Linked DNA regions of Homo sapiens. The protein of the gene in region 2 purifies or fractionates together with the protein of the main gene of each other region. This does not show direct contact. Each region holds a gene or a part of one and is shown on either strand. Other genes may lie near its edges.

What was found. Proteins that work in one complex are often made in the same cells at the same time.
Region 1: the proteins of CD1E (region 2) and PLXNA2 purify together in Homo sapiens (affinity purification with mass spectrometry; 2 studies listed by BioGRID and IntAct, with this or other methods). This does not show direct contact.

The regions. Positions count from the first base shown.
Region 1 is NC_000001.11:208,213,385-208,216,884, reverse strand, and holds part of PLXNA2 (plexin-A2 precursor), read left to right. Parts: coding exon 1-150; intron 151-166; exon of another isoform or gene 167-250; intron 251-3,500. UniProt on the Homo sapiens protein: Coreceptor for SEMA3A and SEMA6A. Necessary for signaling by SEMA6A and class 3 semaphorins and subsequent remodeling of the cytoskeleton. Plays a role in axon guidance, invasive growth and cell migration.
Region 2 is NC_000001.11:158,350,900-158,356,817, forward strand, and holds the start of CD1E (T-cell surface glycoprotein CD1e, membrane-associated isoform a precursor), read left to right. Parts: upstream 1-2,994; 5' UTR 2,995-3,089; coding exon 3,090-3,147; intron 3,148-3,477; coding exon 3,478-3,774; intron 3,775-4,400; coding exon 4,401-4,670; intron 4,671-4,927; coding exon 4,928-5,206; intron 5,207-5,598; coding exon 5,599-5,692; intron 5,693-5,828; coding exon 5,829-5,918. UniProt on the Homo sapiens protein: T-cell surface glycoprotein CD1e, soluble binds diacetylated lipids, including phosphatidyl inositides and diacylated sulfoglycolipids, and is required for the presentation of glycolipid antigens on the cell surface. The membrane-associated form is not active.

The DNA of each region.
Region 1 (3,500 bases), about 50 Mb from region 2:
CACCACCCGCCCGATGACTCTGCCCTGTGTGCCTTCCCTATCCGGGCCATCAACTTGCAGATCAAGGAGCGCCTGCAGTCCTGCTACCAGGGCGAGGGCAACCTGGAGCTCAACTGGCTGCTGGGGAAGGACGTCCAGTGCACCAAGGCGGTAAGGAGGCACACACCTCGCTCTGCTCCTGCTCCATGACACAGGTTCCAACCTTCCTGTCCATGCCCTGGGGCACATCTGCTCCCACACCACCATGGACCTGAAATGAAAGAGGTTTTCAGACTCAGGTTATCAGGTGGTAACCAATAACGCAGGGTCTTACGTACACCAGATACTTGAGATATGTGTGTTGATTTGTTGTCATTTCAAATATATGTATTGAGTGCCTACATCACATCAGGTGCTATTGTAAATGCTGCAGGCTTCAGCTGTGAACCATACAACCCTACAAAGCTCACTGCCCTCATGGAGATTACACGCTAGTTGGGTGAGACAAATGAACACATAATACATGTTAGTTTGCCAAATGGTGATAATGGCTATAGAGAAAAATAAACAGGAAAGGGGGAGAGGCAGTAGCTGAGAGGACTGACTCATTGAGAAAGTGGTGTCTAAGCAAAAACTGAGGATGGGAAGAAAGGGAGCCACACAAGTGTCCAGAGAAAGCATTCCAGAGAGAGAAAGGGTGAGGAGAATGTGCAAAGAATTCAGGGCATGCCTGGAGTGTCTGAGGAACAGTAAGGAGGCAACTGCAGCCAGATCAGAGTATGTGAGAGAAAGAGCAGCAGGTGATGGGGTCCATCAGAAGTAATGGGGACCAGGTCATGTACACACAGAGCTGTAGGCCACTGTGGTTCCCAGTGAGGGGGTCAAGTGGAGATCAGAAATCTAAGTCAGAGGAGAGGGAAGGGAGTCTGGCTTGACCAACTGATGGAAAACTGGAGAAGAATCAGGAGTGTGGGCAAAGGCAAAAGAGGAGAGGATGAAAAGCTCAGAATCCAGACCTGAGGAAAGCAGAGACAAGAAAATCAGTGGCAAGCACTGCCCTGTCAGCGGCTCATGGTGCTGCCATCAAAGTATTCATGATCCACTCTTCTTCCATCATTCATCCAACCATCCAATCATCCATTCATTTATCCACCCATCTCTCCTTTCATCCATCCCCTTTCCTTCCCTCCTTTTATTCTCCTATCCATCTATCCCTCCATCCTCCTTAGCTCTCTCCCTCCATGCATCTCTCCATCCATCCATCCATCCATCATCCATCCATCCATCTATTCACCTATTTACCTAAACCTCCATTCATCTGTCCCTGATCCTTCCCTTCATTCTTTCCTCCATCCCTTCCTCCATCCCTTCATCCATCTCTTTATCCACTCATCCCTCTTTTTTCTCCCTTAATCTATGTCTCCATATCTTTATCTATCCATCATCCATTTGTCTACCTAGCCCTCCATCTATCCATTCATCCCTCTCTTTATTCATCCACCATCATCCATCTACCCATCCCTCTATTCATTTACAAGTAGTATTGAAGATCTTCTGAATGCCTGGCACTGTACTAGGCACTGGGGTTGCAAACATAAAAAGACATGATCGGCTGGGTGCGGTGGCTCACACCTGTACTCCCAGCACTTTGGCAGGCTAAGGTAGGCAGATTGCTTGAGCTCAGGAGTTCGAGACCAGCCTGGGCAACATGACAAAACTCCGTCTCTACAAAAATTCCAAAAATTAGCTGGGTGTGGTGATGCACACCTGTAGTACCAGCTACTCTGGAGGCCTGAGCATGGGAGGTGGAGGTTGCAGTGAGCCAAGATTGTGCTACTATACTCCAGCCTGGGTGACAGAGTGAGACCCTGTCTCAGAAAAAAAAAAGACATGATCACTAGTCTCACAGATCTTATAATCTAGTAGGGGGAAGAGAGAGAGAGAGAGGAAGAGAGAGAGAGCTAGAGACAGCTGGCAACATAATGTAGTGGCTCAGAGTTTGAGGTTCTGAGACAAAAGCCAGGCTTCAAATTCCATCTGTGTTTCTTCCTGCCTTCTTCAGAAGCACCTTAGCATCTCTACATTCTTATCTGTGAGATGGAAATAATAATGCCTAGCTCATGGGATGATCAGATGAGATAATACATGGAGAGATTAGCACCATGCCTGGAAATGTTAGGTTTATTATTACACAGGGAGTTAACAGGGAGTGTGAGAAGTGCAAAAGTAGGTTTCTTGTACACAGTGCTGAGGGCTCTGGATCTGCAACCTAGAAAAAAATATATGAGACCAAGGGGCCCATACGGCTACCTTCTGAGTACTCTAAATTGAAGGTGCCTGCCGTTGGGACCAAGCACCAGTACTTGAAGCAAGAAAACATCATTCCAAGGCTACGCTTCTATTCCTGTCATCATTTGCTTGGTGTGGTAGAAGAGTCGTGGTTAAGGCTTTGAAGTAAACCAGATGGGGATTAAAAATCAGTCCTACCACTTACTCCTTGTGTGACTTTGGGCAAGTTATGTACCTGGTCTGAGCTGTAAATTTTTCGTCTTTAAAATAGAGATAATATTGTCTTCTTTTCATGGTTATTATGAGGATCAAATGGAAAATTTATGTAAAGTGCTTAGCACAATACCTGGAACATAATAAGCATTCAATAAATGGGCCGCTATGATTATTAATATTAATCACAGTAGTAAAGAGCCAGCTATTTTCTTAGTTATCTTACTGTTGTAAAATGAGGAAGCTAGACTAGATAGTCTTTGGTTTTTTTTTTTTTAACGCCAAAATTTTATGGCCACTGGCCGTAACCAATGTGGAGAGGTGGAGAGGAAATGTAACCCTCCGTAAGGGTTAAATGCTTGCAGAGTCCAGCCTAGTTCCCATAACCCAGAGGGGGCCTTGTCAGGAGGAAACTGCTGATTCCTGCCTGCTTCTGAGCCAGAGGAAAGAGGAAGATGACACTCTTCTCTGCTCCAGAGCAGAGGGACAAGCCTGGGCTAGTTACAAAAGGATAGCAAAGGCACTGGGAGAGAGGTGACAGTGAGTGGGGCCAGGACCTTAGAGTGGAGAGCCCCTTGCCTCCACCCCTTCAGCACCACACCCTTCTGGTGCAAGGGCTGCAAGAGGAATGGCCCCTTAAAGACCCTGATACTCCAAAGAACTAAGACCCAGGGACCCAGAAATATTTTGGTGGCCTTAGAGGGGAATAAGGATAAATGAAAGAAGCTGTGGTCCCAGAGCTTGATTTTAACATGACTCTGGAATAACATGGAAATCTCAGATCAAAAATTTGAGCTCTGATCCCAGAAAAGAGAGGAAGAAGGGGGCTATCACTCATTGAATAGCAGCTAGTCCTAAAGGCTAAGCTTGGCAATTTAAGTGTTATCTCACTTGCTCCTCACAATGACCCCATAAAGCAAGAGTTATCTTCCCCATTTTACAGATTAAAAAACAAAGGCTCACAAAGACTAAGTAAGTTGCTCAGATCTCCACAGCTATAAGTGATAAAGCGGGGATTT
Region 2 (5,918 bases):
TTGCAAATGATTTTAAAATTCTCCCTCTTTTTTTTTTTTTTGAAACAGAGTCACACTCTCCTGCCCAGGATGTAGTACAGTGGCACAATCTCAGTTCCCTGCAATCTCCACCTCCTAGGCTCAAGCAATTCTCCTGCCTCAGCCTCCTGAGTAGCTGGAATTACAGGCACACATCATGGCACCTGGCTAATTTTTACTTTTTTTGGTAGAGACAGGGTTTCGCCATGTTGGCAAGGCTGGTCTCGAATTCGCCTGCCTTGGCTTCCCAAAGTGCTGGGATTACGGGTGTGAGCCACCGTGCCTGGCCTGATTCAAAAATTCTAATGGCCGGGGCACGGTTGCTCACGCCTGTAATCTCAGCACTTTGGGAGGCCGAGGCGGGTGGATCACGAGGTCAGGAGATCGAGACCGTCTTGGTCAACATGAAGAAACCCTGTCTCTACTAAAAATACAAAAAATAGATGGTCATGGTGGCTCTTGCCTGTAATCCCAGCTGCTCAGGAGGCTGAGGCAGGAGAGTCGTTTGAACCAGGGATTCGGGGGTTGCAATGAGCCGAGATCCTGTGGCTGCACTGCAGCCTGGGCAACAGAGCAAGACAGCAAGACTCCGTCTCAGGAAAAAACAAAACAAAACAAAAATTCTAAGGAATACAGTTACTTGTAGTATTGATGTTTGGCATAGGTCATTCCAATCTTTTTATTATGTATTATTGTTTTTGTAGGTTATTATATATTCTCTTGAATATTTATCTTTGTTTACTGTTCATAATTTTATTATGAAACCAATTTTGGATTTACATAGCGATTTATAGATAGATTTACATAGCAACTTATAGCTTTGAATGTATTTGTAGAAAAGAAAGAGTATTGAAAATAAATGTAGACATTCTACTCAGGAAACAAGGAAACTTTTTTTAATCTTTCTTTAACCTTAGAATTTAGAAATGATAATAAGATGAAACTAGGTTTGGACCTTTTTCTTTTGTTTTTTTGTTTGCAGTTTTTTTTTCTTTTTTTAATTATTTTTATTTATTTATTTATTTTTTATTATTATACTTTAAGTTCTAGGGTACATGTGCACAACGTGAAGGTTTGTTACATATGTATACATGTGTCGTGTTGGTGTGCTGCACCCATTAACTCGTCATTTACATTAGGTATATCTCTTAATGCTATCCCTCCCCCCTCCCCCCACCCCACAACAGGCCCCGGTGTGTGATGTTCCTCTTCCTGTGTCCATGTGTTCTCATTGTTCAATTCCCACCTATGAGTGAGAACATGCGGTGTTTGGTTTTTTGTCCTTGTGATAGTTTGCTGAGAATGATGGTTTCCAGCTTCATCCATGTCCCTACAAAGGACATGAACTCATCATTTTTTATGGCTGCATAGTATTTCATGGTGTATATGTGCCACATTTTCTTAATCCAGTCTATCATTGTTGGACATTTGGGTTGGTTCCAAGTCTTTGTTATTGTGAATAGTGCCACAATAAACATACGTGTGCATGTGTCTTTATAGCAACATGATTTATAATCCTTTGTGTATATACCCAGTAATGGGATGGCTGGGTCAAATGGTATTTCTAGTTCTAGATCCCTGAGGAATCGCCACCCTGACTTCCACAATGGTTGAACTAGTTTACAGTCCCACCAACAGTGTAAAAGTGTTCCTATTTCTCCACATCCTCTCCAGCACCTCTCCAGCACAGAAAGAGTATTGAAAATAAATGTAGATATTCTACTCAGGAAACAAGGAAACTTTTTATCTTTCTTTTAACTTAGAATTTAGAAATGATAATAAGATGAAACTAGGTTTGGACCTTTTTCAATAATTCTGACCACCGTTCAGTAAATTTACTGTATAAGAAAAGTAGAGGTTTGGGGTTGAATTTTGTTTTATTTTTTCCCAAAGATGTCTATCTCTGATATCTTAGGGCCTGGCAATTGTTTTTGGTCATAGGTGGGCTCTGAATAAATGTCAGTTGAACAAATATATAAAAACCAAACAAAGGAATGTTATTTCAACTGCCTTCAGAGTGTCACAACAAATATCAATGAAAAAGAAACAAAAATAAAGACTCAATTAATTCTCCAGTGAACACTTCAGTCCTCTAAAGGTACTTCCCTGTGTCCACCCAAACTGCTCTCTAACCGAACGCAAGCAAGGGGACTCCAATGCTCTCAGGCCATGAACTAATGAGGAGCTTCATGCCTGCCCTCAGTCTTTCTTCATACCCAGGGCAAAGCTGGCCCACAGACTTCCAGACATGCTTTCTTCGTTTGGGTAGAGATGGGGATCCAAGTCCCCTATGTATTTCCTCCAGAGCCACCTGTAAAACATGGGTGAAATCTACCTGCCCTCTAGCTCACCACTTCCAGGTCAAGCCCACTCATGGACCACTTTAACAGTGACAGTTGGCTTGACTGGGGAAACTGAAAAAAAGGAGCTTTCTTTAGATTTTCTGATAATCTGCATTGCCATTGCTGCTCCTTTTTCAGCAGCACAGAGAGTTGGATTATGGAGGGTTGCCTGCTTATTATGCAGCTACATCCAGGATGCTGAGTGTCTTCTGATCATGATCAAGAGCAGAGTGAAGAGATACAGGCGGAGGAGAGGATCACAGAGAGGTAGAAGTGGGAGACTGGTGGATAGGTCACTAGGCACCACTGAGTGACTACCATCACTTCTCACAGATTAGATTATTGACAAGCCAAGTATGGATTTGATTTCTACAAGGCCAAAAGCTACTCCATCTTCTAGCCAGACCACAGACTTTGTTTTAAGCCAGGACTCGTTTTCCAGCAGTTAGTGCAATTAGGGAGGTTGGGAGGATGTACACAAGAGCAGGGAGAAAATCTGGAGCCAGACAGTGAGAGAGGCAGAGGGGAAATGAAAAACCCCGTGGGAGGCTGCAGCAAAGCGAGGCAGTGTGGCTTCTCTGACAGGGAAGTCAGCAGAGGGAGAGGTTTGTCTGTCTGTACAGCAAGGGAAGTCAGACGAGAGTGCAAGAGGGTGTGGAGAGGGGTACTGATATCTGAATTATTAGGGCAGGTGTCCTGCCAAGGAATCCCTCCTTTAACAGAGCTTCAATGCTGCTCCTGTTCCTCCTCTTCGAGGGTCTCTGCTGTCCTGGGGAAAATACAGCAGGTAAGAAGAGTGCAGGTGGAAAGATACCTATGGTAGGGCACCAGAGGGCTGAGAGGAAGCTCTGGGGAGGTCCTGGGGGAAGGGAGCAGTACTCTTCTAGGATGCCCTTGGAATATGCCTTTCAGGCTAGTTCCAGGCAGAGAATTCTTGCTCTCAGTCTCAGTTTTTGTCTCTGATTTTGGAGAAAGGAAGCTGGCCCCACAGGAAAAGGGTATTGGAGTATGTACAAGCTACCTAACTGTCTCTCATCTCTGGGTTCCTTTTTTCCCTTTGGCATCACTTTTCCCATCCCTTTACATTCTCTCTACTTGTCATTTCCCTCTCTCTCAGCTCCCCAGGCTCTACAATCCTATCATCTAGCAGCAGAGGAGCAGCTGTCCTTCCGCATGCTCCAAACTTCCTCCTTTGCCAACCACAGCTGGGCACACAGTGAGGGCTCAGGATGGCTGGGTGACCTGCAGACTCATGGCTGGGACACTGTCTTGGGCACCATCCGCTTTCTGAAGCCCTGGTCCCATGGAAACTTCAGCAAGCAGGAGCTGAAAAACTTACAGTCACTGTTCCAGTTATACTTCCATAGTTTTATCCAGATAGTGCAAGCTTCTGCTGGTCAATTTCAGCTTGAATGTAAGTTCGTTGCTCTAAGCTGATAATTTGCCTGGGAACACCAACTATTTTCCAAAGTGGAAGATAGTATATAGACTCTGACCATCATTTAACCTTACTAACCTTGTTCCCCACTCTCTGACTCCCACTCCCTCCTCTGCTTCACCCTTCACCACCACCCACACTCCACCATATACACAAAAGGGCCTGCATGTACATATCTCAACATGAATATAGCTTCATGTCTGGCTCTTTGGAATGATTGTCTCCTCTGGATCTTCTGCCCCTCATTCCTGCCCTCAGACTCAGCCTTTCTCAACCCTCTTTCTGCCCTTCTTTATCCTTTGCCTGAGTGTTGACATGGACTGGCCTGTACCTAACCACTTTCACGTGAATTATTTATGACCAATCTCCTATCTTCCTGATAGCCTTCCCATCTACCACTTTCCCATTAGTTATTTCAAAGTATCTTTATTATCTTCAAATTTTCTTCCCACAAATTTTCTTCCCCTTTGCCAGTAAACTCTAGTCTCCATATGATTTCCCAGCAAATTTTTCTTCCCTTGAATCTCTTTACTGTCTAAATTGTTTGTTTTTCTTCCTTGTCATTCTTTCCATAATGATCTCTCTTCCCTGTCCACTCTCAGACCCCTTCGAGATCCAGATATTAGCTGGCTGTAGAATGAATGCCCCACAAATCTTCTTAAATATGGCATATCAAGGGTCAGATTTCCTGAGTTTCCAAGGAATTTCCTGGGAGCCATCTCCAGGAGCAGGGATCCGGGCCCAGAACATCTGTAAAGTGCTCAATCGCTACCTAGATATTAAGGAAATACTGCAAAGCCTTCTTGGTCACACCTGCCCTCGATTTCTAGCGGGGCTCATGGAAGCAGGGGAGTCAGAACTGAAACGGAAAGGTGAGCCCAACTCTCTCTCTCCCCTCTTGTTCCTAGTACTATAACTCTCATATTTGAATTTGCCTCTCATCATCATTTTGAAAGACATAGTGAGAGACTAGAGAATGAGATGTGTGGGTTCAGGACTGTTTCTTAGACAAGAGAAAGAAGTGATTACTAAATCACTCTTAGTATTATTACAAAGGCACCTGAGTCTCTGAGCTCTGGCCTGGGGTGCCCTTCAAAATTCCATTTTTTTTCTATCTTCTTCTTCCTAGTGAAGCCAGAGGCCTGGCTGTCCTGTGGCCCCAGTCCTGGCCCTGGCCGTCTGCAGCTTGTGTGCCATGTCTCAGGATTCTACCCAAAGCCCGTGTGGGTGATGTGGATGCGGGGTGAGCAGGAGCAGCGGGGCACTCAGCGAGGGGACGTCCTGCCTAATGCTGACGAGACATGGTATCTCCGAGCAACCCTGGATGTGGCGGCTGGGGAGGCAGCTGGCCTGTCCTGTCGGGTGAAACACAGCAGTCTAGGGGGCCATGATCTAATCATCCATTGGGGTGAGAAACAGCTGAGGCTCTGCTGGGAAATAATGAAAATAGCCCTGGGGCTTTTGAGTGTGGGGCTGAGGAAATGGGTAGGAATGCTAGGTACAAGAAGGGTAAAACTGGGACAATCAAAATAAAGAAGGATAGAGTATGACAGTAGTTAAATTTTAAGAAAATGGAAGTAGAGAATTAGACATACTAACAGAAAAAGGAGGAGGAACTAGTGATTTAGTGGGAGAGGGTTGGGAGGAGATCACAGACAAAGGATCAGGAGGAATTGAAATGAGGGCTTTGGAAAACCCAGATGAAAATTCTAGGAAGGTCCCACCCTTGTGAAATGGGAAATCTCAGCTTGGTGGAATAGAGTATTTTAGGGTTGGTATTCTTATTCTATCCCCAACCAGGTGGATATTCCATCTTTCTCATCCTGATCTGTTTGACTGTGATAGTTACCCTGGTCATATTGGTTGTAGTTGACTCACGGTTAAAAAAACAGAGGTGAGCTTTTTCTTGTTCTTTGTTTCTTCAGCCTGTAATCAATTCATTCCTTTTTCCTCTATCTTCTTTTTTTTTTTCTCTGCCTTTCCCCTTTATTTCCTTTCTTTGAGATTAATATCCTCCTCTTTTCCCACAGTTCAAATAAGAACATTCTTTCTCCCCACACACCCAGCCCTGTCTTTCTCATGGGAGCCAACACTCAGGACACCAAGAATTCAAGACATCA